Linked DNA regions of Homo sapiens. The protein of the gene in region 1 purifies or fractionates together with the protein of each later gene. This does not show direct contact. Each region holds a gene or a part of one and is shown in the gene's direction. Other genes may lie near its edges. The genes, in order: NHLRC3, EIF2AK3, FLVCR1, OGG1, MPZL1, KIRREL1 and TTPAL.

What was found.
Region 2: the proteins of NHLRC3 (region 1) and EIF2AK3 purify together in Homo sapiens (affinity purification with mass spectrometry; one large-scale study listed by BioGRID and IntAct). This does not show direct contact.
Region 3: the proteins of NHLRC3 (region 1) and FLVCR1 purify together in Homo sapiens (affinity purification with mass spectrometry; one large-scale study listed by BioGRID and IntAct). This does not show direct contact.
Region 4: the proteins of NHLRC3 (region 1) and OGG1 purify together in Homo sapiens (affinity purification with mass spectrometry; one large-scale study listed by BioGRID and IntAct). This does not show direct contact.
Region 5: the proteins of NHLRC3 (region 1) and MPZL1 purify together in Homo sapiens (affinity purification with mass spectrometry; one large-scale study listed by BioGRID and IntAct). This does not show direct contact.
Region 6: the proteins of NHLRC3 (region 1) and KIRREL1 purify together in Homo sapiens (affinity purification with mass spectrometry; one large-scale study listed by BioGRID and IntAct). This does not show direct contact.
Region 7: the proteins of NHLRC3 (region 1) and TTPAL purify together in Homo sapiens (affinity purification with mass spectrometry; one large-scale study listed by BioGRID and IntAct). This does not show direct contact.

The regions. Positions count from the first base shown.
Region 1 is NC_000013.11:39,036,778-39,041,683, forward strand, and holds the start of NHLRC3 (NHL repeat-containing protein 3 isoform a precursor), read left to right. Parts: upstream 1-1,678; 5' UTR 1,679-1,862; coding exon 1,863-1,946; intron 1,947-2,358; coding exon 2,359-2,511; intron 2,512-2,786; coding exon 2,787-2,934; intron 2,935-4,906. Other genes in the region: PROSER1 (proline and serine-rich protein 1), read right to left, coding at 421-465.
Region 2 is NC_000002.12:88,617,465-88,620,964, reverse strand, and holds part of EIF2AK3 (eukaryotic translation initiation factor 2-alpha kinase 3 isoform 1 precursor), read left to right. Parts: intron 1-3,500. UniProt on the Homo sapiens protein: Metabolic-stress sensing protein kinase that phosphorylates the alpha subunit of eukaryotic translation initiation factor 2 (EIF2S1/eIF-2-alpha) in response to various stress, such as unfolded protein response (UPR).
Region 3 is NC_000001.11:212,888,954-212,893,292, forward strand, and holds part of FLVCR1 (choline/ethanolamine transporter FLVCR1), read left to right. Parts: intron 1-192; coding exon 193-304; intron 305-4,339.
Region 4 is NC_000003.12:9,752,612-9,755,928, forward strand, and holds part of OGG1 (N-glycosylase/DNA lyase), read left to right. Parts: intron 1-2,092; coding exon 2,093-2,274; intron 2,275-3,317. UniProt on the Homo sapiens protein: DNA repair enzyme that incises DNA at 8-oxoG residues. Excises 7,8-dihydro-8-oxoguanine and 2,6-diamino-4-hydroxy-5-N-methylformamidopyrimidine (FAPY) from damaged DNA. Has a beta-lyase activity that nicks DNA 3' to the lesion.
Region 5 is NC_000001.11:167,724,584-167,728,922, forward strand, and holds part of MPZL1 (myelin protein zero-like protein 1 isoform a precursor), read left to right. Parts: intron 1-4,339. UniProt on the Homo sapiens protein: Cell surface receptor, which is involved in signal transduction processes. Recruits PTPN11/SHP-2 to the cell membrane and is a putative substrate of PTPN11/SHP-2.
Region 6 is NC_000001.11:158,080,087-158,084,425, forward strand, and holds part of KIRREL1 (kin of IRRE-like protein 1 isoform 1 precursor), read left to right. Parts: intron 1-4,335; coding exon 4,336-4,339. UniProt on the Homo sapiens protein: Required for proper function of the glomerular filtration barrier. It is involved in the maintenance of a stable podocyte architecture with interdigitating foot processes connected by specialized cell-cell junctions, known as the slit diaphragm.
Region 7 is NC_000020.11:44,482,082-44,486,420, forward strand, and holds part of TTPAL (alpha-tocopherol transfer protein-like), read left to right. Parts: intron 1-2,255; coding exon 2,256-2,449; intron 2,450-4,339. UniProt on the Homo sapiens protein: May act as a protein that binds a hydrophobic ligand.

The DNA.
Region 1 (4,906 bases):
TTAGATTTGAAAACCCCATCATAATAACTACCATAAAAGAAACTTTCTGCGTATTACCTCTCGTTTTCAGTCACTCTTGTGTTACTGAAAGATGAGGCAATAAACTCAAAAATATTAAACCCCTTACCCAAAAAGTACAGAGCTATTACGGATTTGTAAAGCCGGCTTTGGAACCGAGGGCTTTACAAATGTAATTCCCACGACACCGTGCTGAGTCTCAAATTTGGCGTTAACGTAACTTAATTTCTATTTGTACTGGAAACGTATCAAGATATAAACTCCTCCATTACACGTGAAAATTCAAACCAATTTGGCAATCCTAGGACCCTTATTCTGCACAATCTCCATACAGTACCTCAAAGAGAGTCTAAAACACGAGAATTCATCTCATAAAATAATTCATGGAATCGGTCTAATTACCTTTCTAATTTCATCCAGCACCATTTCAAAGGACTTTTTATCCATCTTGACTACTATCCCGACGTGGTTTTAACAGTTATACTTGCAATTAAAAGACGTTCATCCCTGGTCTGCTCCGCCGATAGTAAAAAATATTTATAGCTGAGGAGGAAAAAGACTCCACGAGCAAGAGAGGATGCGAAGAGGTAGAGAGTATTGCAAACTTCGCAAAAAAAATTTCTAAAAATTGAGATTCAGAAAAACTCTTTTTATTAAAAAGAAAAAACACTCCAGTCAGGCTTCCCCAGCTTATTCACACAATGGTTCAGGGCACCTCGGGCAAGAGCCAGGTCCTCTGAGTTTTGCAGAAAAACCCGGGCTCGGCGGCAGGTTTGAGTGCGGTTTCCCTGCAGCTGAGGGCCAGGTGCCGCCAGAGGTAGCTCTTGAAGGCGCTTTCCCAGGTGGAGCGGCCGGCAGAGTAGAAACACCTGCGCTCAGAGTCCACGGGCGGCGGGGAGGGAGGCGCCGGTCTCTCGACCCGCACCTGCGCCTCGGCCGCCGGCCGCGACCCTCACCGCCGCGAACCCGGACGCATGGTCCGGCTCGCGCTCATCCCCAGCCGCTCCGCCCGACTCCTGGATACCTCGGCCCCGGCAGCAGGCGGCCCGGCAGGCTCTTTGTTACCAGCTGCTGCAGCTTCCGGGAGCGGGCCGGCGGCTGGGGAGCACCAGGAGCCGGGCGAAGAGGGGCACGGCCTCGCATAGGGGGACTCCGGAAAAACGCAGCCCCAACAGCGCCAGACGCCCTGCCTGGTTACCCCTACAGCCCCCACCAGCTCATGGGGACCTACAATAAAGCCAGTCGCGCCCAAGTAAACTCAACACTGCGCCGCCAGCTTGGGCCCCTCTTTCCTGAAAGCCAGAGGTGGGGTCCTGGTGTGGGAATATAGGCATCCATAGCGGATGCCTGGATGGTAGGAATAGGATGTGGCAAAAATCCTTCCCGAAGCCTAGCGGTCATTATTTTGAATGTCATCCCCACCATACCTCGTGTCTGAGTGTGCGATGTTTTGATTTTGCCCTCTGGATTAAAAAGAATAAATGGCGAGCGATTAAGGCATATCTACGGGCGCCCATACTTTGGTGGCCACTGAAAGTCAGCGGCGCGGACTGCCCTGAGGGCGGGAAAGGGTGGTCACTGGGTCAGCCCGAAGCACCTGACATGAGGGCGGGGACCCCGAAATGCACACGAAGTCCGGAACTGGTCTTCTGTGATTTTCATTCGCCCTGGTCTCTGTTCCCTTTCGTACTCAAAGCTCGTGCATCCAGGGAGGGGAAACCGGAGATAGGGTCTTCGGGCCCCGGGCAGACCCTCTGTGCCGCTGCAAACCGTTGCAGCCTGAGGCTGTCAGGTCCTCCCCCAGACACCTGCGGACCCTCCCTCTCCTGGCTTCCCGTCTGGTCATGGCGAGATTCTGGGTCTGCGTAGCCGGTGCTGGCTTCTTTCTTGCATTTTTGGTTTTGCATTCGCGTTTTTGTGGCTCTCCAGTGAGTTGGGTAGTGAGGAAATGACTGTCGGGTGTGCGGGTAGCCCTGTTGGGAGGCGTCGCCACGGTCGTGGCATGGAGGTGGCAGGCCCTGGTTCCCTCAGTAGCTTGTCTCAAAGCCTGCACCTGGGTCCAAACTGCCTTGACCCTTTGAGTTTAAAAATTTGTGTATGTTACATCGCCATTTTCCTCTTTCCCAACTCTTACTACATCCTCAAATAATTTGCAGACTTGTATTGTGGTCGTGTTGGTCTTTAGGCATCTAAGCTCATTTCTTTGGAATTATTTCAGTCCAGCAAACTTCTAGTTGTCAAGGCATGCTTAAAAATAAGCCCTGTTACCCGGCCCCCCCGCCCTTTTTTTGTTCTTACCTAGACGGTAAACTAAATCTGAATTGTCTGATTTTGTTTAAGGTTTTGAGGAACTTTACTTTTGCAGTTTCCTGGAGAACTGAGAAAATTCTTTACCGGCTGGATGTGGGTTGGCCTAAGCACCCAGAATATTTTACCGGAACAACATTTTGTGTTGCAGTTGACTCCCTCAATGGATTGGTTTACATAGGTCAAGTAAGTAAATAGAGATTTAAAAAAATTATGAACACAAAGGAAGTAACAGCCTTCCTGTCTTGCTGTAGTAACTGACCATATGCGTTTATATCATGCTAATTGTGCAATTTATTTTTGAGTTGGTCTCAAGTATTTTGGTTTCGAATGTGAAAGATATGTTAGATTTTGAAAGTGGTTTTTGTAGTAAAATTCTCAGTTATTTTTTTTCTTCGCCAAGATACAGATTACCTTTCCTTTAAGCTGATCCTAAGAAGTTATTTTTTGTATACCTTCAGAGAGGGGATAACATCCCAAAGATATTAGTGTTCACAGAGGATGGATATTTCCTACGAGCCTGGAATTATACAGTTGACACACCTCATGGTATATTTGCAGCCAGTACTCTATATGAACAATCCGTCTGGATCACGGATGTAGGAAGTGGTATGTATAGTAATATCTATTAAATTATCTTACTGGAAATCACATCTTTGCACATGTCCTTGTTTGTATTGTTTAAAATCAGAGTTGCTGAATCTAATTGTAATTTCTTTAACGATTCATGAAATCACATGTTTTTAACAAACTTTATTTTGTACTTCTGTGGAATTAAGAAATTTAACAAGGGCTGGACGCCGTGGCTCACGCCTGTAATCCCAGCACTTTGGGAGGCCGAGGCGGGCGGATCACGAGGTCAGGAGATCGAGACGATCCTGGCCAACACGGTGAAACCCCCGTCTCCACTAAAAATACAAAAAAAAAAAAAAAAAATCAGCCAGGCGTGGTGGCGGGCGCCTTTAGTCGCAGCTACTGGGGAGGCTGAGGCAGGAGAATGGCGTGAACCCGGGAGGCGGAGCTTGCAGTGAGCCGAGATCGCGCCACTGCACTCCAGCCTGGGTGACACAGCGACACTCTGTCTCAAAAAAAAAAAAAAAAAGAAAGAAATTTGACAAGGAGCCTGTTAATATGATCTTTCCTTGAACTTGTCTAGGGTCTTTTCCTCTTTAAAGCATCAGTTGCTCTTCTCAGATTAAATAACTCTAAACTGAAGCCAAATAAAGTGGCAGTCTCTGAAAGCAATGACTGGAATCCTTGACTCTTATTTTCCTTTTCCAGTTTTCTTTCATAAAAGATTGTGAAATCGTAACTGCTTTGTTGCTCAAAGTGCAAAGATTGCAGAAACTGTTGTTAATGTTTTTGAAATTCTACTGACTGAAGCATGTCTGAAATCTTCCTGCCATCAAATATTTTTAGTAGAAAAAGCTGAAAAATGAAGTGAGCACAACTGAATGTGCAGCTATGGAGAAAGTTTTCAGAGAAACAATTCACCTGTGGCTGTAGCTTAAGACAAGGCAATACCTGAGATATCCTGGCATTACCCTAGGAATTCAGGAAGAAATGGGATTATAAAGACATTATTTCTAGTATTCCTTGGCCCAGTTATGTTCTTGAATTGAGAGACATCCTGGTTCTACAGTCCTGGCTGATTCAGATACCATTTTTTAGAGATAATGAGTTCTCAGTTTCTGTAAGTAGTGCCATTATCACAGCTGTTCTCAGAACCCATAAGATTTCTGGGCCTCAGCTGATGGCCCATTTATTTCATGCTGTGTTTTACATAGTATGAATCTGGTTCAACCAAAAAAAGTCTATAGATTATCACTGAGTGAATTGTTAATACTATAATGAGAGTCTATTTTCACTTTTTTCCTGAAGATCCACTGTTAAAGACCATTTCTTTGAGTTCATTTTATTCATGTGATTTTTAAAAATAAGACTTCCTTGATTCCCAGAAATAAAAAGAGCACAGACGATCTCTTCATTTTTTCCATTACAGCTAATTTTCTACCCAGAGATCTGAAGACAGTTTTATATTCCCATTTCCCAAAGGAATAAATTTCCTCTAATGAAAAATATGGCTACAAATTAGCCTTTTTTTTTTGAGAAAATTTTTTATTGGTAGTCTTTTTTGCTAGTTTTTAGAAACTTGGAGGCTTATGTGTTTTTTATTGCTATGAACTTTAGCTCAACTGTCTAAAAGTGTAATAGTAAATAAATTATTTAACATAGAATTGTAATGCAAGCTGATTCACTTTCTTTCTGGTAAGCTCAATGTATCCAGTTTGTCTTTTGAATACCTATCAATTAATTTGGCATATGTACCTTCAAATTGATTTCTGTTCACTGCTTTATGATATTCCCTTATTAGTAGTCTGCTTTATGCTCTTGCTTGTAAGATAATTTTAACTTAAAGAAATTTTAACGTGAGAAAATAAGATACTCATGATTTACAAAGATTATTTTCTTCTTAGCAAAGAAAAGTTGGGTTGAATTTTGAATGTCTCCACAAGGTGAAAATGCAGTTAAAAAAAAAATCTGTACCATAGAGAACGTTTTTGTTGACTTACTGAAATTT
Region 2 (3,500 bases), on another chromosome or scaffold:
TTTTGTGTAGATAATATGTTTGTCCTACCAAGGTTTATTCATTCAACAAACATTTATTTAGTTTTACTGGGGCCCAGGTACTGCTAGGCCCTGAGAGTAGATAAATGTCTTTTCCGTAGGAAGCTCCAAGCCTGACAGATCATTGTGTTAAAGAATTAACTATCCTCGAATGGATAATAAGTGACATAAAAGTAGTGTGAGTGAAAAGAATGGAAGTGGCAAGTTATTGAGTCCCGGAATGAGAAAAATATCAAGGACAGTGTAGGCAACAGAATAGTGTGAGCAAGGGCACAGAGCAGGGAGTTTGTACAGTGAGCACAGAGCAGTGGTTCCTAAGCCAGGGCTCCAGGACCCCTACAGATCTGCAAAGATAAAAATGGGGATCCATGAGACTGCCAGTATTTTAAAATAACCTAATGGAAATTAAATATTTAATAGAAGGTACATTAAAAAGTGAAGTTCCTTTGCTTTGAACTAGAATTATATAAAACCTTATATAGTAATTACAGTTCTTTCAAGAAATGTTGAATATTTTGATTGGTTCTTAAGTATTTCCTCTAAAGATGGGAGAATTTATTATACACAGTGTTCATTTGGCAGGTGGAATAATTTAAGACATGGAGGAAAATATAGACAAGAGAACTTTTGAAAAGTTCACCCCATGGAAAGGGGGGAGTGTGGAGCTGGGAAGGAGAGGGGAGAGAGGGTTGGGCTGGTACAAGAGGCAGAAAAATGAGATTAGGAAAGTACACCGAAACCAAATTGTGAAAGGCTTTATGTGCCACACCAAGCAGTGTGACCTTTCTTTTTCAGTGGGCACAGGGAACCTTGGAAGTTTATCAGATCTCTATTACAGAAACAAAACTGTGGGAAGAAGAGAGGGGAAAGAAACCTGAGGCAGGAAAATGTGTTAGAAAGCATTTTAAGGTGTTCTGATGAGAAATGAGAATCTTCTAGAGCAAGAGCTGTGGTAATGAAGAAGGCAAAGATTTTTTTTTTTTTTTTTTTTGAGACGGAGTCTCGCTCTGTCGTGCAGGCTGGAGTGCAGTGGTGCAATCTTAGCTTACTGCAACCTCCGCCTCCCAGGTTCAAGTGATTCTCCTGTCTCAGCCTCTCCCAATTAGCTGGGATTACAGGTGCATGCCATCACACCCGGCTTACTTTTGTATTTTTAGTAGAGATAGGGTTTCACCATGTTGGCCGGGTTGGTCTTGAACTCCTGATCTCAGGTGATCCATCCGCCTTGGCCTCCCAAAGTGCTGGGATTACAGGGGTGAGTCACCGTGCCCAGCCAGAAAAGATTTAAGAGAAGCTTCAGAAATAGAATTAAGAGTACATGGCTGTTGTTTAAATGTAGAGGATGAGGGAGCACAAAGAGTTGATGTCTGATTTAAATGTTAGGTAATAGGATGGATGGCTACCCTTTTAAGTGGCAGGAATAGATTGTGGGAAAGAAGTTTCCTGAGCCTGTTATGGTGATAACAAGTAGATCCTGCTGAAGATGCAGAACTAGGATAGGGGAGAGATGGTGAACTATAAATCCTGTACAGGTTTGGGGGCTGTCATACTATAGATGGAGGTGAAGCTGTAGACATTGACCATCTAGGTAGAACATGTAGTACAAACAGGAAAATGCCTGCTCTATAGATAGAAAACTATAAGGATGATAGGTGAGGCCGGGCACGGTGGCTCACGCCTATAATCCCAGCACTTTAGGAGGCTGAAGCGGGCAGATCACCTGAGGTCAGGAGCTCGAGACCAGCCTGGCCAACATGGTGAACCCCCACCTCTACTAAAAAATACAAAAATTAGCTGGGCATGGTGGTGGGCACCTGTAATCCCAGCTACTTGGGAGGCTGAGGCAGGAGAATCGCTTGAACCTGGGAGGCGGAGGTTGCCATTGAGCAGAGATCGTACCATTGGGCGACAGAGCAAGACTCCGTCCCCCCAAAAAAAAAAAAAAAGAATGATAGATGAGGACCCAGGAGGGACTGGTCCTGTAGAAACCAGGAAAGAAAAATGTCCAGAATGAGGAGCTGGCCACAACGGTGGCTTTTGTGAAGACAGGCCTGATGAGGGGAGTGAATCTGGCAGTTAGGAAACCATTGAAAATCTTTCTTGAGAGTGGCTTCCAAGGATTGGATCATGGGTGAGAGTTCAGGGCTTGCTGAGGAATCATCCAAATAAATGCTTTTGTAAGCTACAGCAAAATGTAAGTGAGAGACAGAAGTCTCCAAAGTATTTACTGACAGAGATGTTCAATATGCCTTCTTCATCCACATCATAAATTTAATTTTTCTCTATGGAAATGACTAAGGTAAAACAGTGTTTGCACAACTGGTCTTATGAGACTCACCTGGGGTGCTTGTTAGGCTACATTCTCCCAGTCTCCCTCTTAGGATGAGACGTGGGAACCTTTAATGGTTTTTAACAAGCACTCCAGATTATTTTTATGATCAGGTACACTTGGGTTACACTGAGATAGGTGAAATAACCATATTTTGCCTATGAAAAAATAACTCGAATGAAGCCATGAGGAGAATGAGAGGAGAGCCTTGGGGATGTACACCCAGGTCTGACTTAGGCTTTGGTTCTTTCCACTGGAAAAGCTGTCTCTGCAGTTCCTTCAATTCTTGAATAAGTTAAGAGTTTTTCATCTTGATCTTGGAACCCTCAAAATAGGGCAAGTGGTCTTGGGGAGATAAATAACCTTATATTCTTCCTGTTTTGGGAGGTGTTCATTTTTCACTTTTTATCTCTGTTTATGTTTCTTCTTCTTTCTGGAGACAGCATTTCACTCTAACACTTAGGCTGGACTGCAGTGGTGCAATAACAGTTCACTGCAGCCACGACCTCCTGGGCACAAGCAATCCTCCCACCTCAGCCTCTGAGTAGCTGGGACTACAGGCATCTGCCACCATACCCGGCTAATTTTTAAAGTATTTTTGTACATTTGGAGTCTCAGTATGTTGCATAGGCTGGTCTGAAACTCCTGGCCCTCCAAGCAGTTCTCCTGCGTCAGTCTCCCTGAGTGTTGGGTTTACAAAGGAAAGCCACTGCACCTGGCTGTGTTTGTTCTAAATGCCATACCTTTTTTAAGTTCAACTTTTATTTCAGATACAGGAAGTACATGTGCTGATTTGTTACATAGTATATTACACCCAGGTAGTGAGCATAGTACCCAATGGTAGTTTTTCTTTTTTTTTTTTGAGATGGAGTCTCGCTGTGTTGCCAGGCTGGAGTGCAGTGGCGTGATCTTGGCTCACTGCAACCTCTGCCTCCTGGGTTCAAGCGATTCCCCTGCCTTAGCCTCCTGAGTAGGTGGGACTACAGGCATGCACCACCACGCCCGGCTAATTTTTTTTTATATTTTAGTAGAGATGGGGTTTCACCACGTTGGCCAGGATGGTCTTGATCTCCTGACCTCGTGAGCCACCGCACCTGGCCCCAATGGTAGTTTTTCAACTCACCCCCGGCCAGTACTCTGCAGTGTCTATTGC
Region 3 (4,339 bases), on another chromosome or scaffold:
GCTAGGATTACAGTGGGTGTGAGCCACTGCACCCAGCCTGACCGTGGTTTTTGTTTTAACAATTCAACTTTTCAATGAATGTTTCTAGAAACCAAATCATATAACCAAAATAAGAAAAGTTCTGGTGAAAACTTTATACTTGCTTTAAATAATTTAACTTAATAACGAATGATTTTTCTTATTGTATTTTAGATATTTGGAATTTTGTTCACATTGGCTCAAGGAAAGCTCACATCAGACTATGGTCCTAAGGCAGGGAACATTTTTCTCTGTGTCTGGATGTTTATAGGCATCATATTAACAGGTAAATTAGGGCGTTTGCCTGGCAAAAGGACTTGTGTCATGTGTTAATTTTCATATATATTGCTTCTCAATAGCTTGACAGAACTCAAGGGGAAAAAAATGAGATAAAAAGCAGGACATTATTTGTTTTCTTCTAAAGACATGAATCTCTTACTTCATTTTGCAGATTTCAAATTCAATACAGTTACTCTGCATAGCAAGCAAAACTGTTATAATAAGAGTAGTAAAGGCTGGGTGTGTTGGCTCATGCCTGTAATCCCAGCACTTTGGGAGGCAGAGGCGGGCAGATTACTTGAGGTGAGGAGTTTGAGACCAGCCTAGCCAACATGGCGAAACCCCGTCTCTACTAAAATTAGCCAGTTGTGGTGGCGCACACGTGTAGCCCCAGCTACTTGGGAGGCTGAGGCAGGAAAATTGCTTGAACCCAGGAGACAGAGGTTGCAGTGAGCCAAGATCACACGAGTGCACTCTAGCTTGGGCAACAGCGAGACTCTGTCTCAAAAAAAAAAAAAAAAAAGAGTAGTAAAGACCTGGAGTTGGGAAGACCTGGCCTCAAATTCCGATTCTGTTGCTCAGTGGGAGTGTGACTTTAGACCCGTTGCTTAACCTCTCAAATCCTCCTTTCCTTATTTATATAATAGAGTGTTAAAGCCTGCTTTATAGGGTTACTGTGAGGATTAATTGAAATGGTTCATGAAAAGTTCCTAGTGTCTGGCACCTGGGACGTGCCTAACATGTGTTACTATTGTTATAATGTGGTAGAGATGGTAAGCAGTCAAGTGGTAGTGGTGGAAATAGTATGTGGAATCCTTAGCTAGTGCTTATACTTCTTAGGTATAGTCATCATAGACATGGGCAGGAAAGAAAATAGTGCTCAATCTCCAGAGAAAGAGAATGTCAGAGAATTTTTATCCATAGTTTGCCCATGCACATGGGTGTACAATAGATTTGGAAGCAGAACTTTTTCCAGGTGCATACTTTTAAAATGTCATCATTCCCTAAACATTATAGTATAACAGCTATTTACATTGTATTAGGTATTAGTAATCTAGAGATGGTTTAAGTACATAGGAGGATGTGTGTACGTTATATGTAAATACTTCCCAGGGGCGTCCAATCTTTTGGCTTCTCTGGACCACATTGGAACAAGAAATATCTTGGGCCACACATGAAATACTCTAATACTAATGATAGCTAATGAGCTAAAAAAAAAAAATTGCAAAAAATCTCATAATGTTTTTTAAAAATTTGTGAGTTTGTGTTAGGCCACATTCAAAACTGTCCTGGGCCACATATGGGCTGCAGACCACAGGTTGAACAAGCTTATACTACACCATTTCATATAAAGGCCTTGAGCATTCGTGGATTTTGGTATCTGAGGTGGGGTCTTGGAATCAATCCCCCGCAGATACCAAGGGAGGTTGTGCTTCGTTGATCTGGTTATAACTTAGTTGGAGGATCTGGTTATAACTTAGTTGGAGAATCTATCAGAAGGATGTGAATCAGAATTTCTTCTACTGTTTGTGGAATACCTGATCATTCTTTGTGAAACCTTCAATATGAAATCTCACCAGTGATAGACATTTTGGATATACACAACTACCTAAGGTCGCTCACTCAATTGTATGAATGATAGGAACCTGAGCATTCATTCACGAAGCTAAAAGAAAGTGAATGCACTCTGTTTCCTCAAAGAAAAACATCTTATCACAGGGAGTTTTTCCCCCTGTCCAGTTAGTAAAATAAAACATACAAAACTGTGAAATATGTAATACATTAACTGCTTTAACTATTGTTCTTTCATAAGTAATTCCATGTTGGTTCTTAATTCCTAGGCAAGTACTATATCTTATCTAAGATTATTACTATTGGCTGGACGTGGTGGCTCATACTTGTATTCCTAGCACTTTGGGAGGCTGATACAGGTGGATCATTTGATGTCAGGAGTTCAAGACCAGCCTGACCAACATAGTGAAACCGTGTCTCTACTAAAAATACAAAAAACTTTAGCCAGTTTTATGGGCACACACCTGTAATCTCAGCTACTTGGGAGGCTGAGGCAGAAGAATTGCTTGAATCTGGGAGGCTGAGGCAGAAGAATTGCTTGAATCCGGGAGGCGGAGGTTGCAGTGAGTGGTGAAGATCACACCACCACTCCAGCCTGGGTGACAAAGTGAGACTCCGTCTCAAAAAAAAAAACAGTATTATTGTTATACCAAAGAAGGGAGCAGTTTTGTAATCCTCCTTCAAATTACTTTTACAAGAGATTCATGAATACTAATTCAAACAAATCAAGTCTAGAAAATTAAGAAGTGAAAATAGATCTTTAAAATTAGTTTTACATTGATGCTTTTACCATCTCAAATGGTATTCCCTGAGGCACAACAATATTGAAATCAGGGCCCTGATTAATACCCCCAAATTATTACCCCTACAGTGGCCTCCAGGTGTTTAAGCAAAAGGAAGAGTAGTAAATCTCTCCTCTTAAATCAGAAGCTAAAAATGATTAAGCTTAGTGAACAAGTCATGTCAAAAGCCCAGATAGGCCAAAAGCTAGTCCTTTTGCACCAAACAATTAGCCAAGTTGCTAATGCAAAGGAAAAATTCTTAAGGGAAATTAAGAATGCTACTCCAGTGAACACAAATGATAAAACAGCCTATTGATATGGAGAAAGTTTGAGTGGTCTTGTTAGAAGATCATACCAGCCACAACATCGCCGTAAGCCAAAGCCTAATCTAGAGCAAGGCCCTAACTGTCCAATTCTGTGAACGTTGAAAGAGGTGAGAAAGTTGCGGAAGAAAAGCTGGAAACTAGCAGAGGTCAGTTCATGAGGTAAGGAAAGAAGTTGTCTTCATAACATAAAAGTGCAAGGTGAAGCAGCAAGTGCTGATGTAGATGCTGAAGTAGGTTATCCAGAAGATCTAGCTAAGATGATTGATGAAGGTGGCTACAATAAACCACAAATTTTCCATGTAGATGAAACAGGCTTATACTGGAAGAAGATGCCATCTAGGACTGCCATAGCTAGAGAGGAGGAATCAATGTCTGGCTTCAAAGGACAAGCTCATTCTCTTGTGAGGGGTTGATGCAGCTGGTGACTTCACATTGAAACTAATGCTTGTTGACCATTCTGAAAATCCTAGGGCCCTTAAGAATTAGGCCAAATTTTCTCTGCCTAAGCTCTAACAATGGAACAATGAACCTGAACCCCGTAGTTGATAGTACATCTGTTAGTAGCATGGTTTGCTGAATATTTTAAACCCATTGTTGAAGCCTGCTACTGAGAAAAACATTCCTTTCAAAATACTACTGCTCATTGACCAATTCACCTGTTTACCCAAGAGCTCTGATGAAGATGTACGAGGAGATCAATGTTGCTTTCATGTCTGGAAACACAGCATCCCTTCTGCAGCCCGTGGATCAAGGAGTAATTTCAACTTTCAAGTCTTATTCTTTAAGAAATACACTTCAAAAGGCTGTAGCTGCCAGAAATAATTATTCCTCTCTTGGATCTGAGCAAAGTAAATTGAGAACTTTCTGGAAAGGATGCACCATCCTAGATGCCATTAAGAACATTCTTGATTCATGGGAGGAGGTCAAACTATCAACATTAACAGGAGTTTGGAGGAAGTTAATTCCCATTCTCATGGATGATTTTGAGGTGTTCAAGACTTCAGTGGAGGAAATAGCTGCAGATGTGGTGGGAATAACAAGAGAACTGGAATTAGAAGTGGAATATGAAGAGGTAACTGAATTGCTGCATCTTATGGTAAAACCTGAAGAAATGAAGGGTTGCTTCTTTTTTTTTGGGGGGGGGTGCCGGAATGTTGCTGTGTTGCCCAGGCTGGAGTGCAGTGGCGTGATCTCGGCTCACAGCAAGCTCTGCCTCCCGGGTTCAGGCCATTCTCCTGCCTCAGCCTCCTGAGTAGCTGGGACTACAGGTGCCCGCCACCACGCCCGGCTAATTTTTTGTATTTTTTGTAGAGACGGGGTTTCACCATGTTAGCCAGGATGGTTTTGATTTCCTGACCTTGT
Region 4 (3,317 bases), on another chromosome or scaffold:
TTCACAGTAGCCCTGTAAGGCAAATGTTTTACAGAGGCAAGTGTATCGATTGGCAGATGTGAGAACCAAGCTAGGACAAGTGCTTGGGAACTGCATAGCAAAGAGACAGACTGCCTCAAAACAGGAGAATGTTTTTGGTGCTTAGAAACCCATTCCTGGCCGGGCGTGGTGGCTCACGCCTGTAATCCCAACACTTTGGGAGGTCGAGGCAGGCAGATCATCTGAGGTCAGGAGTTCAAGACCAGCCTGGCCAACATGGTGAAACCCCATCTCTACTAAAAATACGAAAATTAGTCAGGCGTGATGGCAGGCACCTGTCCCAGCTACTCCGGAGGGTGAGGCAGGAGAATTGCTTGAACCCGGGAGCAGGAGGCTCCAGTGAACCAAGATCAGACCACAGCACTCCAGCCTGGGTTACAGAGCGAGACTCCATCTCAAAACAAACAAAAAGAAACCTGGGTCAGGCACGGTGGCTCACACCTGTAATCCCAACACTTTGGGAGGCTGAGGCAGGTGGATCACCTGAGGTCGGGAGTTTGAGACCAGACTGGCCAACCTGGTGAAACCCGCTCTCTGCTAAAAATTAGCTGGGCGTGGTGGCAGGTACCTGTAATCCCAGCTACTCAGGAGGCTGAGGCGGGAGAATCATTTGAACCTGGGAAGCAGAGGTTGCAGTGAGCTGAGATCATGCCATTGCACTCCAGCCTGGGCGACAGGGCGACAGGGCGAGACTCCGTCTCAAAAAAAAAAAAAAAACCTGGCCGGGCGTGGTGGCTCACACCCGTAATCCCAGCATTTTGGGAGGCCGAGGCGGGTGGATCACGAGGTCAGGAGATCAAGACCATCCTGCCTAATACGGTGAAACCCCGTCTCTACTAAAAATACAAAAAAAATTAGCCGGGTGTGGTGGTGGGCGCCTGTAGTCCCAGCTACTTGGGAGGCTGAGGCAGGAGAATGGCGTGAACCCGGGAGGCGAAGCTTGCAGTGAGCCGAGATCGTGCCACTGCACTCCAGCCTGGGCGACAGAGTGAGACTCTGTCTCAACAAAAAAAAAAAGAAACCTGTTCTTGAGTCTCAGCTCCTGGCTTAGTTAGTCATAAGGCCTCAAGAAAGTCATTCACCTCTTCCGGCTTCTCTTAGCTTGTTTGTAGAATGGGAATAACAGTTTCTATCTAGAAGGGCTTTGGGAGTGAATAAAGCAATCATGAGGCAGTGTAGTGTAATGGGTTAAGAGCACGGCGTTAGCCAGGTGGGGTAGCTCATGCTGGTAATTTCAGCACTTTTGGGAGCCCAAGGTGGGAGGATGGCTTGAGCCCAGGAGTTTGAGACCAGCCTGGGCAACATAGTGAGACCTCATCTCTACAAAAAATAAACAAAATTAGCCAGGCATGGTGACACAAGCCTGTAGTCTCAGCTACTCAGGAGGCTGAGGTGGGAGGATCGCTTGAGCCTTAGGAGGTCAAGGCTGTAGTGAACTGAGATTGTGCCACTGCATTCCAGCCTGGGTGACAGAGCAAGACCCTGTGTCAAAAAAAGAAAAAGCACAGGTCTTGGTGTCCCAGACCTAGGTGCAAGATCTTATCTCCCCCATGTCCTTTCTTAAGTAAGTTAACCTCTTCTAAGCCCTCATTTTCTCCACATGTAAAATGGGAAAACAGCAGTACTGTCAGTGGGGTTCTTGGGAAAAGTAAGCATGATAATATATCTGAAGCATGTTGCCTAGCACTTGATCATAGAAGCTGTTGCTATATTGTGGTTATTTTTTTAGATCATGAGTGTGAACACTCTTTCGGAAAGGTTAAGGAACTCAGTTGGGGAGCTCCTCAAGGGAAGCAAGTCCTCAGTCCCTGGACTAGACTTGGGCTCCGGGGCCAATTCATAGCAGGTGCTCAGAAAACATGTGTAGAGGGACAGGACCCAGGCCTAACCCTTTCCCTTGCACATAAAAGTGTCCACTATCCCATAGAGGGTGGGGAGGTAGGAGGGGAACTTAGGAAAAGCACTCTTGTGAGGTAGAGAGCTCACTTACTAGCCTAAGGACAGGAAGAACTTGAAGATGCCTGATGCTTGCCCTCCTCCTCACTCCCCGCAGGGCCAGAGGTGGAGGCTCATCTCAGGAAGCTGGGCCTGGGCTATCGTGCCCGTTACGTGAGTGCCAGTGCCCGAGCCATCCTGGAAGAACAGGGCGGGCTAGCCTGGCTGCAGCAGCTACGAGAGTCCTCATATGAGGAGGCCCACAAGGCCCTCTGCATCCTGCCTGGAGTGGGCACCAAGGTGAGGCCCCAGGGGGTAGGAGCTGCCCTCTCTACTGACACTAAGAGGAGAGCAGGAAATGAGCCAAGCCTGGGAGCTGGGTGGAGGCTTGGCTTCCGGAGGCAGAGCAGGAAGGAGAAAGGATATAAGTAGATGTTTTATGAGAGAAAAAAGCAGAGTGCAGAAAGAGTAGAAAGGATATAGCCCTTTGAATGAATTTCTAGAAAGACCATTTGTTCAGATGCAACACATATATGCTGCTATATATATGCAGCAATTTCCAGAAGGAAATTGCAGGAAACTAAATAATAGTTTCCTTGGGGGAGACAAATGGGAAGATATTTCTTCTTTTCGGTTTTTTGTTTGTTTGTTTGTTTTGGTAGAAATAGGCTCTTAACAATGTTGCCTAGGCTGGTCTTAAACTCTTGCCCTCAAGCAGTGTTCCTGCTTTGCCCTCCCAAAGTGCTGGAATTACAGGGATGAGCCACTGCTCCCGGCCACATTTTGTTCCTTTCGTAAAATGACATGTACTGACAAAACTTTTTGCTTGATGTCAATAGGGTTAACTGGCAATAAGATGACTGGAAATTAGGCATTTGTCTTTTTTTTTTTTTTTTTGAGGTGGAGTCTTGCTTTGTTGCCAGGCTGGAGTGCAGTGGTGCAATCTCGGCTCACTGCAACCTCCGCCTCCCGGCTTCAAGCTATTCTCCTGCCTCAGCCTCCAGATTAGCTGGGATTACAGGCATGCGCCACCACACCCAGCTAATTTTTGTATTTTTAGTAGAGATGGGGTTTCACCATGTTGGGCCAGGATGGTCTCAATCTGACCTCGAGATCCACCTGCCTCAGCCTCCCAAAGTGCTGGGATTACAGGCGTGAGCCACTGCACCCAGCCTTTTTTTTTCTTTATACTTCTCTGTAGTTTAAAAAATGAATTTTTGCTTAAAGATTTTTTTTTGATGGGCTTTGGACTACAGCCTAACATTAAATCTTGGTTCTGCCTATTCTCAGCCATGTGACTTTGGCCAGGTCACTTCACCTTTCAAAGCCTCAGTTTTCTTGTC
Region 5 (4,339 bases), on another chromosome or scaffold:
AATGATCATAGGTTTTGGGCTTGGGAAGCTGGGCATATTTTTGGCCTTTTCACAGATGGGGAAATAGGAGTCTTGGGGGAAGAAGATGATGGAGATACTTTTGAATATGTTGAGTTTGAGATGCGGGTAAGACATCCAAATGGAGATGGGCAGAAAACAATTGGATAGACAGTTCTGGAGGTGAGGAGAAAGTTCTGGTTGGAAATGGAGATTTAGAGAGTTATGTGGCTAATAGTTAAAGCTTGGATTGTTTGGATGAGGGCATCCAGGGAAAATGCACTGAAGAACATAGCAGAGAGCCAAAGACGGAGTTTTGGGGTATATGAAACCTGACAAAGAGTCTCTGTGAGTAAGAGAAAAACCAGGTGAGTTTGGTATTTCAGCATTGTCAGATGAAGAGAGATAAAATGTGATAAGAATTCACTGAATTTGGTAATTGAAATGAGCACATAGTATATGAGGACTAAATCTCAGTAATTTGTACCATCCATGTCAGTAAATGGAACCTCCATACATCTAATTGTGCAGGCCAGAAACCTAGGGTCCATCCCTGATTCTTCCCTGTCCTTCACATCCAATCAGTTCTCCCATCTTTAAAATGCATCTGGAATTGATGTTTTTTCTACCTCCACTCCTAGCCTTTTAGTCAAAGTCACCACCATTTCTTGCCTATATTACTGTGATAGCCTCCCAGCTGCTCTTCCTCTTTTTCCCCCTCTGGAGTCTTGCTCTGTCTCGCCCAGGCTGGAATGCAGTGGCACAATCTCGGCTTACTGCAACCTCCATCTCCCAGATTCAAGTGATTCTTCTTGTGCCTCAGCATCCCAAGTAGCTGGGACTACAGGCATGCACCACCATGCCTGGCTAATTTTTGATTTTTCTATTTATTTTTAAATTTATTTTATTTATTTATTTTTTGGGGGATGGAGTCTCGCACTGTTGCCCAGGCTGGAGTGCAGTAGCGTGATCTCGGCTCACCACAACCTCCACCTCCCTGGTTCAAGCGATTCTCCTGCCTTAGCCTCCCGAGTAGCTGGGACTACAGGCGCATGCCACCATGCCCAGCTAATTTTTGTATTTTTTAGTAGAAACTGGGTTTCACTATGTTGGCCAGGCTGGTCTCGAACTCCTGACCTGGTGATCCACCCGCCTTGGCCTCCCAAAGTGCTGGGATTACAGGCGTGAGCCACCACATCTGGCTGATTTTTTTATTTTTAGTAGAGACAGGGTTTCACCATGTTTGCCAGGTCTGGAACTCCTGACCTCAAGTGACCGGCCTGCCTCAGCCTCCCAAAGTGCTGGGATTACAGGCATGAGCCACCACGCCCAGTACTCATCTTGGTTCGTTTTAATCCATTCTTCACAAAACTGCAAGAATGATTTTGTTAAAATGCAAATCAGATCATGTTGCCTTCTTTTTTAAAATCCTTAATGGCTTCCCATTGCACTTGGAATGAAATCTAAACTTCCCATGGCCTGAAAAGCTCTTTGTGATCTGGTTTCTGCTTACCTCTATGACCTCAACTTGTACCACCCACCACCCCTTTCTCACTATATTCAAGCCACACTGCCATCTTTCTGCTCTGTGACACTCATTCCCACCTCCTAGCCTTTGAACTAGCTGTTCTGATGTTGCCCAGGGCTGGCTCCTTTCCATCACAGAGGCTCTAAGTTTCACATCTTTAGAGAGGCCTCTCTGACCACCTTATTCTAGGGTACTTACCTGTTACTATTTGCTGGTTTGCCGTTTACTTCCTTATTGTAATTTCTATATGGTTTTTCTTCTCTTTTTTTTCCTCCATCAGAATCTGGGACAGACAAATCATCTGTCTTGTTTATAGAAGTATTCCTAGTGCTTAACACAGTGGATATGGTAGATGCTAAAAATATTTGTTAAATGGCAGTGAGGCATAGGCATGTCTTGACAACAGTTTGTTAGGAGTTTGCAATATGTAGTTATGATTTAGCATGGTATAGTAGGTCCTCAATATGTGTTTATGCAAGAAGAATATTTTTCCAAAGTGTGATTTCATGCACTGCTTATTTCTCATTATCAGTTCCCTTGGCCTTTTACTTATTTACTAGTCAGGATAGTAAAATAGAAACTTAGTCTTATAAAATATGTATATTTTTTACTCCAACTCCAGGATATCCACTAGGCTTAGATGCTGCCAAAAGAAAAAGATAAATGTTAAGTGAAAGACAGCTATGTGCAAAAGAACATAAAATGCAAGTTTGTGTTTTCATTAAGTCTAATTTATTTACTTATTCAACGTAAATGAACACCTACTGGGCACAAGGCACTGTTTATGTATGGGATGCAGCAGGGAGCCTAGATGCTAGTGAGAAGTGACAGACAGGAAACATCTACTCAAATAAATAATACCAAAGGACAGATTAAATTCCCAACAATCACAACTTTTAAGAAAATATGATTGATCTAATATGAAAATTTGCAGCAAATTTTTGAAAAATGGAACATCTTATTTGTATTATAAAATATTTTTAAAACTTATAAGGGATATGTTATAGGGTTTCTTTAAAGATTGGTCTTTCCCACTGAGTTTTAAAAACATGATTTAATTGGGAAAAACATAGCTTTTCAGAAATATTGCTGTTTCCCCTCTATCCAGTAGATGCTGGTCTACCTACTAAATATTTCTCACCATCCACTTTGCATCCACACTGGAGCTAATATAGTACAGCCACAGTCATGTCTCTACTGGATGATTAGAGCCTTCTAACTGGAGCCTGACTGTTTTTGAGTTATATCTTTTATCTGAGAATTTGAATTATTTGTGTAAGACATACATCTCATGTGTACCTCAACCTTGGAAAGATTTTTAATCTTGCTCTCTAAGACCACAGATGTCATTTTAAAAGGGAGAGTAAAATGGTAAGCTTTGGCATATAATTTATTATAGATTAGTCTTTAGCCCCATCGAAGACGGTATAATTATTAGAAGAACTAGAAGCATCTCCTGAGGTCTCAAGTGTCATATGGCTCTGAGACTTGACCCCTAAGGCTGGTGATATTAAGCCTTCATGTATCTTGAATGATATTCCTTTTTTCCTTTTCCACTCTTACTTTGCTAAGTCGTTTGACATTAGCAGTGCCCTAGAGTCCAGACAAAAGTCTTTGGAATTTTTGCTGCCGTAAGAAAGCAGAGGTCAGTTGGCTCCGTTCACCATAGTGCATAAATTGAGAAATTGTGGTTGTCTCCTGGGATCTTTATATCTTTGCCTTTAAACCCCTTTGTTTATTCATTATCTTTTTTCTTTCTTTTCCTTTTTTTTTTTTTTGAGACAGAGTCTCGTTTTGTCGCCCAGGCTGGAATGCAGTGGTGCAACCTCGGCTCACAGCAACCTCTGTCTCCCAGGTTCAGTGATTCTCCTGCCTCAGCCTCCCAAGTAACTGGGATTACAGGCATAAGCCACCACGCCCAACTAATTTTTTTTTTTTTTTTTTTTCTGAGGCAGAGTTTCACTCCTGTTGCCCAGGCTGGAGTGCAGTCGCGCCATCTCGGCTCATTGCAGCCTCTTCCTCCCACGTTCAAGCGATTCTTCTGCCTCAGCCTGCCGAGTAGCTGGGATTACAGGTGCCTGCCACCACGCCTGGCTAATTTTTTTGTATTTTTAGTAGTGATGGAATTTTGCCATGTCGGGCAGGCTGGTCTCCAACTCCTGACCTCAGGTGATCCACCCAAAGTGCTGGGATTACAGGCGTGAGCCACCGTGCCCTGCCCAAATTTTTTTTCTTTTTTTTCTTTCTTTCTTTCTTTTTTTTTTTTTTTTTGTATTTTTAGTAGAGATGGGGTTTCACCATATTGGCCAGGCTGGTCTCGAACTCCTGACCTCAGGTGATCCACCCGCCTCGGCCTCCCAAAATGCTAGGATTATAGGCATGAGCCACCGTGCCCAACCTATTCATTGTCTTTTTCAATGCATGTGGCTACTGTAATTTTTTATTCACTTAACAATTTTTTCTTGATCCCATTAGGCCTTTATCCAAGATGATTTCATTGATAAATCCTCCTTCAGTAGGTTTCTTCTTCTAAACTCAGAGTCTCTAGAAACTGTGATACCTTATGATACCTCTGATCTTATTGTTAGAACATAGAGCTTGAGTAATTTTGTAGCAACAGTGATACACTGAATCCAGTACTTAGGTTTAATTGATTGGAGTTAGAAATGCAGTATGTCTTTGCCTATCCTGTGTATTGCAGATAAGATTGCCCCATAGAATGAAATCTATGACTTAAGTTTTGTTAGGAGCATGCTGCAACCAACTGAACAGACCTTGATGAACTTGCAATGAACATTTTTTCATACTGGGACC
Region 6 (4,339 bases), on another chromosome or scaffold:
CATCCCTCACTGAGGTGTGTCAGCCCCATGCTCAACCAAGTATTCCGAGGAACCGTGAGACTCTTAGGAAACCTTCTTCTTTCTTTTTTCCTCCCTAACTGCCTCTATCTTAGGCCCTAGAAGGTGCTACTGCTGCCCTGGAGTACTCGCTTCCTAATGAGTGGACCTTGATACTCTTCTTTCTGCTACCTTATCACAGAGATAGAGAGAGATGAAGAAAGGCCAGCTAAGCTACTAAGTGTTGCAGTAACAATGTCTTATAATGGCACCCAGTGGCTTGGTTCAATCCAGGAAGAACCTGGAAAAGGAGAATATCAAGGGGAACCCTAGATGGAAGAGTGCCTTGTTTAAAAGCTTGCAGGCCAATGAAGGAGAGCTACATAGCAGGAGAGCCGACTGGCTTGTTTCGAGGGCATGGTGGGTATTGAAGGTATGGTCCTTGCTGGCCTGCCTGGGTGACTTGGGTGGATGAGAGAACAGGGAGAGACCCCAGGAGTAACTTTAAGCTGAAAGAGAGACAGGGACGGTTAGTGCAGCTGGAGGGGCTTTACACGCCTGGGCAAACACCTGGGCATGGTGTCTCCTCGGGGCTCTACCCATCCAGGATCTTCCTCCCGGGTGTGGCAGCAACATGTGACCTTAGAGGGGCCTGAGCAGACCAGGAGGCCCTTCTCCCTTCACTCTTTCCTCTCCTTGTCTTTCTCTTAAATTCTCAAACACCCTGCCACCTGCAGCACACGGAGGCAATAAGAAGGCATGACACTTCCTGCATCCCTTCCTGCGTACCTGCTTACCCACAGCCTTTGCTCATGGCAGCTGGGGGACCCAGAGACTAGGCAGGGCAGAAATGAGGAGTGGGCTGTGCCCAGTGCCTGGTATCAGCCTCCCTGCATGATGTCAGCCTTATAGACTCCTCTCCTCCCCAGCCATCCCCCTCAGCAGCCCCCCAGCTCCCCAGGCCAGGGGCCCTCTTCACAAAATGGCCTCTGTCATTCTTCCTTAGGGTAGGACTTTGAAAAGAAGCCTCCCACTCCCCCGCAGATGCAGACATAACATAGATATACAGACCTCCAAAACCATGGTGATGAGCATGACTTCTGGGTCAGGCAAGCCTGGTCCACATCCTAGCTCTGCCCTCTAACTCACTCTCCTGTCTCTGAGCACATTTGTTTATCCTCTTCGAGCCTCCGTTCCTTATCTGTAAATTGGGGTTAATATATTTACCATGAAAGGAATAATGAAATATACTTTGTGGTAGGGATTAAATGAAGTCATATACAGGAGGCACTTTGGCTGACACAAGGTGAACGTTCACTGAGTGGCAGAAGTTATTGTCGATCCCACCACCATTTACAGTTGGCTTCACCTTCTTGATTTTGTTTTGCAAAATCAGGGGAGTAGGTGTCCATTGTATTTTTGAAGTTTTATAAACAAGGAGACTGAGGCTTTTTTGACCACAGACTCAGGGGCACATGAGTTTGGGGAGGCACATGAGCATATTGATATACAGATTTAAGTCACAAACCATAAAAACTTGCTTATAAACACATGCACACATGGACACATGCCCTTTAACAGCTGGCTCAGCAGGCACCTTAACAGCTTTATTGTCATTTGTCCCATATATGAGGGACGAGCTCATATATGAGGGATGAGCTCACGGAGGATGGGCAGAGAGTTTGGAAAATTCAGAGAAAGGTAGACTGCTGGCAGAGGTGACAGATGGGTAGTCTTTGCATGAACAAAGGGGCAGGAGGCATTCCCAGGGTAGAGGAAGCTGATGCCTTCCCAGCGGAGGGGCTTCACACACCCGGGCACACACCTGGGCATGTTGTCTGCTCGGGGCTCTGCCCATCCAGGATCTTCCTCCTGGGTGTGGCAGCAACATGTGACTTTAGAGGGGCCTGAGCAGACCAGGAGGCCCTGAGCAGCAGCTCTTTATTCATTTCTCTCCACCTTTCTCTACTTTTCAAGCTGCTCCCCATCCCCATCCTCAAACCTGTCCCCATCTGGCATTGGAACCAGATACACCACAGAACAAGGAGGAAGAGCCAGGGATTCAGAGGATAATTAGCCAGGCAGGAGTTGGAGCCACTGCTACTCTCGTCCAGGCAGTAAGGCTAATACATTCCATACCTCACACATGCCCTGCACATCATAGTCTATGTATAGTATCTCATCTGACCTTCATGAGGCTCTAGTGAGTATGGTTATGTCTTGGTTTCTTCTCTGATGAAGAAACTGAGACTCAGTGATTTTAGGAACTCATCCGAGATCACACAGCAGGTAAACAAAGGTGCCAGGATTTGAAACCAGGCAGTCTGAATCTAAGTTTTATTCTTTTTCCACTATACCACTAGGCACACATGAGTTGAACAGAATGCTAAGACAGGTTTCGAGTAGTTTCTACTGGAAACCCCAGCATAGAGACCTTCATTGTGTAAATTCTAGAACAGCCCTGTCCACCACTGGGCACCGTGGGTCTCCCAAGATCTCCTCTTGAGTGTTCCCTCTGCACACTCCTCTCGAGTGTTCCCTCTGGACCCTCCTCTGGGTCTTTCTTGTCTTTCCCAGAAAGAAGCAAACAAAATCTTTTATCGGTGGAGCACGCTGGCTCATGCTTGTAATCCCAGCACTTTGGGAAGCTGAGGTAGGAGGACTGCTTGAGCCCAGGAGTTTCAGACCAGCCTGGGCAACATAGCGAAACCTCGTCTCTACAAAAAATAGAAATTAGCCAAGCATGATGGTGTGTACCTGTAGTTTCTGATACTTGGGAAGCCGAGGTGGGAGGATTGCTTGAGCCCAGGAGTTCCTTTCTCATTTATGGTTGATGAACACTGGGGGGACCAGAAAAATTATAATCAAAATCCTTCTGCCTTTATTTCATCAGTATCCATTCATTAATTCAGCAAATATCCCTGAGCACCTGTGATCACCCAAGCCCTGGGCTAGACATTGAAGTGTTGATGGTATATCAGAAGCAGCCGCTACCCTCAGGGAACTTACAGTCTGGTTTGTCTTAGAAGCCTATGGAGATAGGGGAGGGAGAGCCCCCCTTGTTTGCAACATCATACATCGGTCAATTGAATTCTTTAAACATTTAGCAAGAGCCTACTTGGTCACATTCTAGGCACTGGTGACCATATAAATATTAGTGAGACAGGGTTGCTGTTTTTCCAGGGGATCACAGTTTTGGTTGGGGCAGGGTTCGATAACTGTTATAAGTAAACAAAATCCAAGGCGCTAAGAGCTCTGAGTGACTGGTGGGGGCCACCATGGTGGGGGTGGGCTACAGCATGGAAAGCCTTGTGCATCAACTGGGATTTGAACAGGATAGGAAGCACTTCAATAGAAGCTGTGGGAGAAGGGCATGCCATATGGAAAGCACTGCAATGCAGGTCTTGGCTTGAGGACCCTGAACAGGAGGCCGAAATGCTTGGAACTTATGCCCTAGGCAGTTGTAGCCATTGAAGGTGCTTGAGCAGGGGAGTGGCACATACTTAGCTGTGCTGAAGGGAAAAATAACCTGCTAGCAGTGTGACATGGAGGTTACTGTAATAGGCCAGCCCATCTGTCTGCTCCAGGGCAGAGGAGCAGACAGGAGGAAGGATGGGAGAAGTGCTATGGAGGTAGCCACCTTTCCGAGCCAGACTCCCAAGACTATGAGCTGTACTCAGGGCCTGAGATAGCCCAGCCCTTTCTTAAGTTTGAGGCTTCCATCTGTAGTGTGCAGCTCTGAGCAACTGTAGGGGTATGGAGCCAGGCACAGTGGTTCACGCCTGTAATCCCAGCACTTTGGGAGGCTGAGGCAGGTGGATCACCTGAGAGGTCAGGAGTTCGAGACCAGTCTGGCCAACATGGTGAAACCCCTACTCTCTACTAAAAATACAAAAATTAGCTGGGAGCAGTGGTGGGCGCCTATAATCCCAGCTACTTGGGAGGCTGGGGCAGGAGAATCGCTTGAACCCAGGAGGTGGAGGTTACAGTGAGCTGAGATGGCACCACTGCACTCCAGCCTGGGCGACAGAGTGACACTCCATCTCAAAAACAAACAAACAAACAAACAATAAACCAGTAGGGGCATGGAGTACCAGAAAATATTATAGGCCAGGAAAGAAAAGCAGACAAGGACTGGGAAAGATGTGTGAGCTGAGGACCTAGAGGAAGCCACCACAAGAGCAATGAAGACAGTGGTTGTAGATTAGGGGGTAGGGTGGTACCGCCTACCTAGAGGCGCACATGCAGGTGGAAGGATGCTTCCAGAGGCAGGAGTTTTGGTCTTCAGGGAAGTGTTAGCCACACCCTGCACTGACTTTGCTCTGCTTTCTCCCACAGTCCC
Region 7 (4,339 bases), on another chromosome or scaffold:
ATACACAGAAAGGTTTCTTCTCAATTGGGTATCAGCTTTGCCTTTGTTAAAGCTCTTTTGAGACATGTGATTGAAAGGGATGATATCCAGTTACATAGAGGCAGGGTTAATTGGCAGCAACGTTAGACAGCAAGCTGGCACAATTTGGGGACAAAGATCTTTCACGAGAATTTTGCACATATCAGGTCAGGTGTGGTGGCTCATGCCTGTAATCCCAGCACTTTGAGAGGCTAAGGCAGGTGGATCATGAGGTCAGGAGTTCCAGACCAGCCTAGCCAACACAGTAAACGGCCCCCGCCTCCCCCCAACCCCCACCCCCTGTCTCTACTGAAAATACAAAAATTAGCTGGGCGTGGTGGCACATGCCTGTAATCCCAACTACCCCGGAGGCTGAGGCAGGAGAATCGCTTGAACCCGGGAGGCAGAGGTTGCAATGAGCCGAGATCACGCCACTGCACTCCAGCCTGGGTGACAGGGCAAGACTCTGTCTCAAAAAAAAAAAAAAAAAAAGTTTTTTGCACACATCACATATCCCATTGTTGGCAAATGGGAAGTTTTATCTTTTAAGAAAGAGGCACATAGATTTTGCTGGGATTTTCTTGAGAACAGTGGTTAACAGTAAAAAGTGGGCATTCTCATTTTTTTTTTCCCAAAGAGAGGAAAGAATCATTAAATACATGGGGTGTATTAAAAAAGTATCCACCTTGGAAAGAGGAGGGGAACATAGCACTATGTTCCATCCTTACAATACCTCCGTCAAGGTCGTGTATGAGTCAAGACTCAGCTTTTTTTTTGAGACAGAGTCTCGCTCTGTTGCCCATGTTGGAGTGCAGTGGCGCGATCTCGGCTCACTGTAACCTCTGCCTCCTGGGTTCAAGTGATTCTCCTGCCTCAGCCTCCCAAGTAGCTGAGACTACAGGTGTGCACCACCATGCCCAGCTAATTTTTGTATTTTCAGTAAAGACAGGGTTTCACCATGTTGGCCAGGCTGGTCTTGAACTCCTGACCTCCAATGATCCACCCACCTTGGCCTCCCAAAGTGTTGGGATTCCAGGCGTGAGCCACCACATCTGGCCAAAACTCAGTCTGTGTGGCAAGTGACAGCCAACTCACGTTAGCTGAAACAAACAAAAAAACCTCAGTTGCTCAGATAACTGAGGTCTAGCCGTATTTCCATTCAGGGGCCCAAACTCTGGCACTGGAAAGCTGTCCCCACCACTGCTGTCCTCAACAGGGGCTTCACTCCCAGGCCAGCTCTCTTGCCTCATGGGGCCCGTGAATCTCAGACTCACCGCCTCAAAACTACAAGAGGGAAGACAGAACTCTTTCCAAAGGGCCAGGGGTCCTAGAATTGAGTCTCCTTGACTCTGCTTGACCTGGCTTGGATCACACACTGTGGCCAGAAGGATGTGCTGTCAGATTGGCCAATCAATCCCCAGTCACTTGCTCACCTCTGAAGTCAGGAGTCAAGTCAGTTCTATCCAAACTGCATGGCTAGAGTGGGAGGAGGTGGTTCCCTAAGGAAAATCAGGTTAGTGCTATGAAGATAAGGGGAAATACATGATGGCAGAAAGCACAGATGTCCATGAAGGTAGGCATTATCACCCTATTCTACTTATGAGGACATCGGGGCTCAGAGTGAGGTATTATAGTAACTTGCCCAAGGTCACATAGCTAGTAACATTCAAACCTCAGGTGTGTCTGACTTCAGAGTGCATACTTTTTTTTATATTTTTGAGACAGGGTCTCACCCTGTCACCCAGGCTGGAGTACAGTGGCATGATCACTGCAGCCTCAACCTCCTGAGCTCAAGAGATCCTCCCACCTCAGTCTCCCAAGTAGTGAGACTACAGCCACACCCCACCATACCTGGCTAGTGTTTGTATATTTTGTAGACATGGGGTTTCGCCATGTTGCCTGGGCTGGTCTTGAATTCCTGGGCTTATGCTTAATTCCTCCCACCTCGGCCTTCCAAAGTACTGGGATTACAGGCATGAGCCACTGTGCCCAGCCAGAGCTCATGCTCTTAACCTCAACACTCAATTGTATTTCCATCACAAAATGTGCTGCTGTTTGGAGTTAAGAAACCAGCTGCTGCTTATTGTTCCATTTACTAACCTAAATAAGAGTCATGGCTACTAGAATATCTTTCTTTTCCATTTTGAAACAACAGTGATAGAAAGGAGATAAATCTTTGTTTGACCACTTATTTATATTAACTTCTGTAACATACTGTCAATCTCTTATGACCTTAGACAGATGGATACCAAGCAACTATCCAATTACTGAAAACATCCGAGCCATATACTTGACCTTAGAAAAACTCATTCAGTCTGAAGAAACCCAGGTGAATGGAATTGTAATTCTTGCAGACTACAAAGGAGTGAGTTTATCAAAAGCATCTCACTTTGGCCCTTTTATAGCCAAAAAGGTGATTGGCATCCTCCAGGTAAGACCCGTATGTGTCCTGCCTGTTTCGTGGTGGCTCTGGCTTTCCCCAGGGCCTGTCCATTTACTGTGGGTCTCACATGATACACAAACTGCACATCCCACACCTGCAATCTGAAAAACACAAAAGCATTATGGGAAGAAATTTAAAAGTCCTATTTACCACTTGTTCTCATCAGTCTCTCAAGTACTCTCTGGAGTAGGTACTTCAGTAAGACAAGAGTCCAAAAAACTAGAGAATTTGCTTGTTGCCTTTTCTTGGTCTGGAAGGCAGAGGAAGAATTCTCATAACAAACAAAACTGGCTGGGCGCGGTGGCTCACGCCTGTAATCCAATTCTTTGGGAGGCCGAGGCAGGTGGATCACTTGAGGTCAGGAGTTTGAGACCAGCCTGGCCAACATGGTAAAACCCCATCTCTACCAAAAATACGAAAATTAGCTGGGCATGGTGGCAGGCACCTGTAATCCCAGCTACTTGGGAGGCTGAGGCAGGAGAATCATTTGAACCCAGGAGGCGGAGGTTGCAGTGAGCTGAGATCGCGCCATTGCACTCCAGCCTGGGTGAGAACAGCAAAACTCTGTCTCAGAAAACAAACAAACAAAAAACCTAAGAAATTATGCTTCTGCGTAAGGTGCTGGAGCCCCTCCTGCCCTCTGTGGACCTGAGGGATATGGTGTTCTGTTGGGCTGTATTTTGGTCAGATGCTTCACACCTCATGTTCTGTGTTTCAGAACATGAGTCACTGGGGACTGTGGTGCTCCCTCCATATCTGCACCGTGTTTAACAGCTTGCACAGTGCTTTTACAGTCATCAGGGCCTATTCAGTCCCTCAGCGAATCCTCTGAGATAGGCAAGGCAAAAACTATTTTTCCTTTTTGATAGATGGGAAGATGGAGACCTAGAGAAAATATAGCCTGTCACAGCTGTGACAGGTTTTGATTACTTGTTCATTCTGACCCACCACGTGGGGTGTTTTCCCTTGTAAACTATGGGGCACCGGTGGTATAGTAGCTCTTCTCACTGATTCCACAAATGTTTCAGCCCCTGTGGTGCACCAGGTTTATTATTTAAATAAATCAGTGCACATTTGGACATTATCAAACATTTGGATTCTGGCTTTGAGCCAACCCTGGCTTTCCTTCGCTGGCACTCCTTTTGATGCCTCCTCCTGAATACCTTGTAGATTCAAGTGTCAGGATCAAGAGTGTGGATCAGTGTTAGTACCGTAAGATCATCTGGAGAGGAGAAAAAATTAAGTAAGTTTGGGAAATGCTGTATAGCATGTCCCTTTCTTGTGAATTTCACTGTAAGAATTTACATGTTAAAGGCTCTGAACAGGAATGCAGTTAAGGAAACTCACTTGATTATGCTTAGTGGACTACGTTTCTCAAACTCATTTGCCTGCTGTGGAGCCCTGTTTTATATAACCTCTAATAGCCTGAGAAATATACTTTGGGCAACACTGATCTGGAAGGTCTGGTATTTGCCAGATCTGTCCCTGTAGACTCAGACTGTTTTCTGCTGTAAGAGCAGCAGCTCTTCATATGTTTGCCTCTCTTCTTTTTTTTTTGAGATGGAGTCCAGGCTGTCATCCAGGCTGGAGTACAGTGACACGATTTTGGCTCACTGCAACCTCCACCTCCAGGGTTCAAGCAGTTCTCCAGCCTCAGCCTCTCCAAGTAGCTGGGATTATAGACACGTGCCACCATGCCCAGCTAATTTTTGTATTTTTAGTGGAGATGGGATTTCACCATGTTGGCCAGGCTGGTCTCGAACTCCTGACCTCAAGTGATCCGCCCACCTCGGCCTCCCAAACTGCTGGGATTACAGGCATGAGCCACTACACCCAGCCTCTGTTTGCCTCTCTTCTAACCCAGTTTTGGGTCCCAGG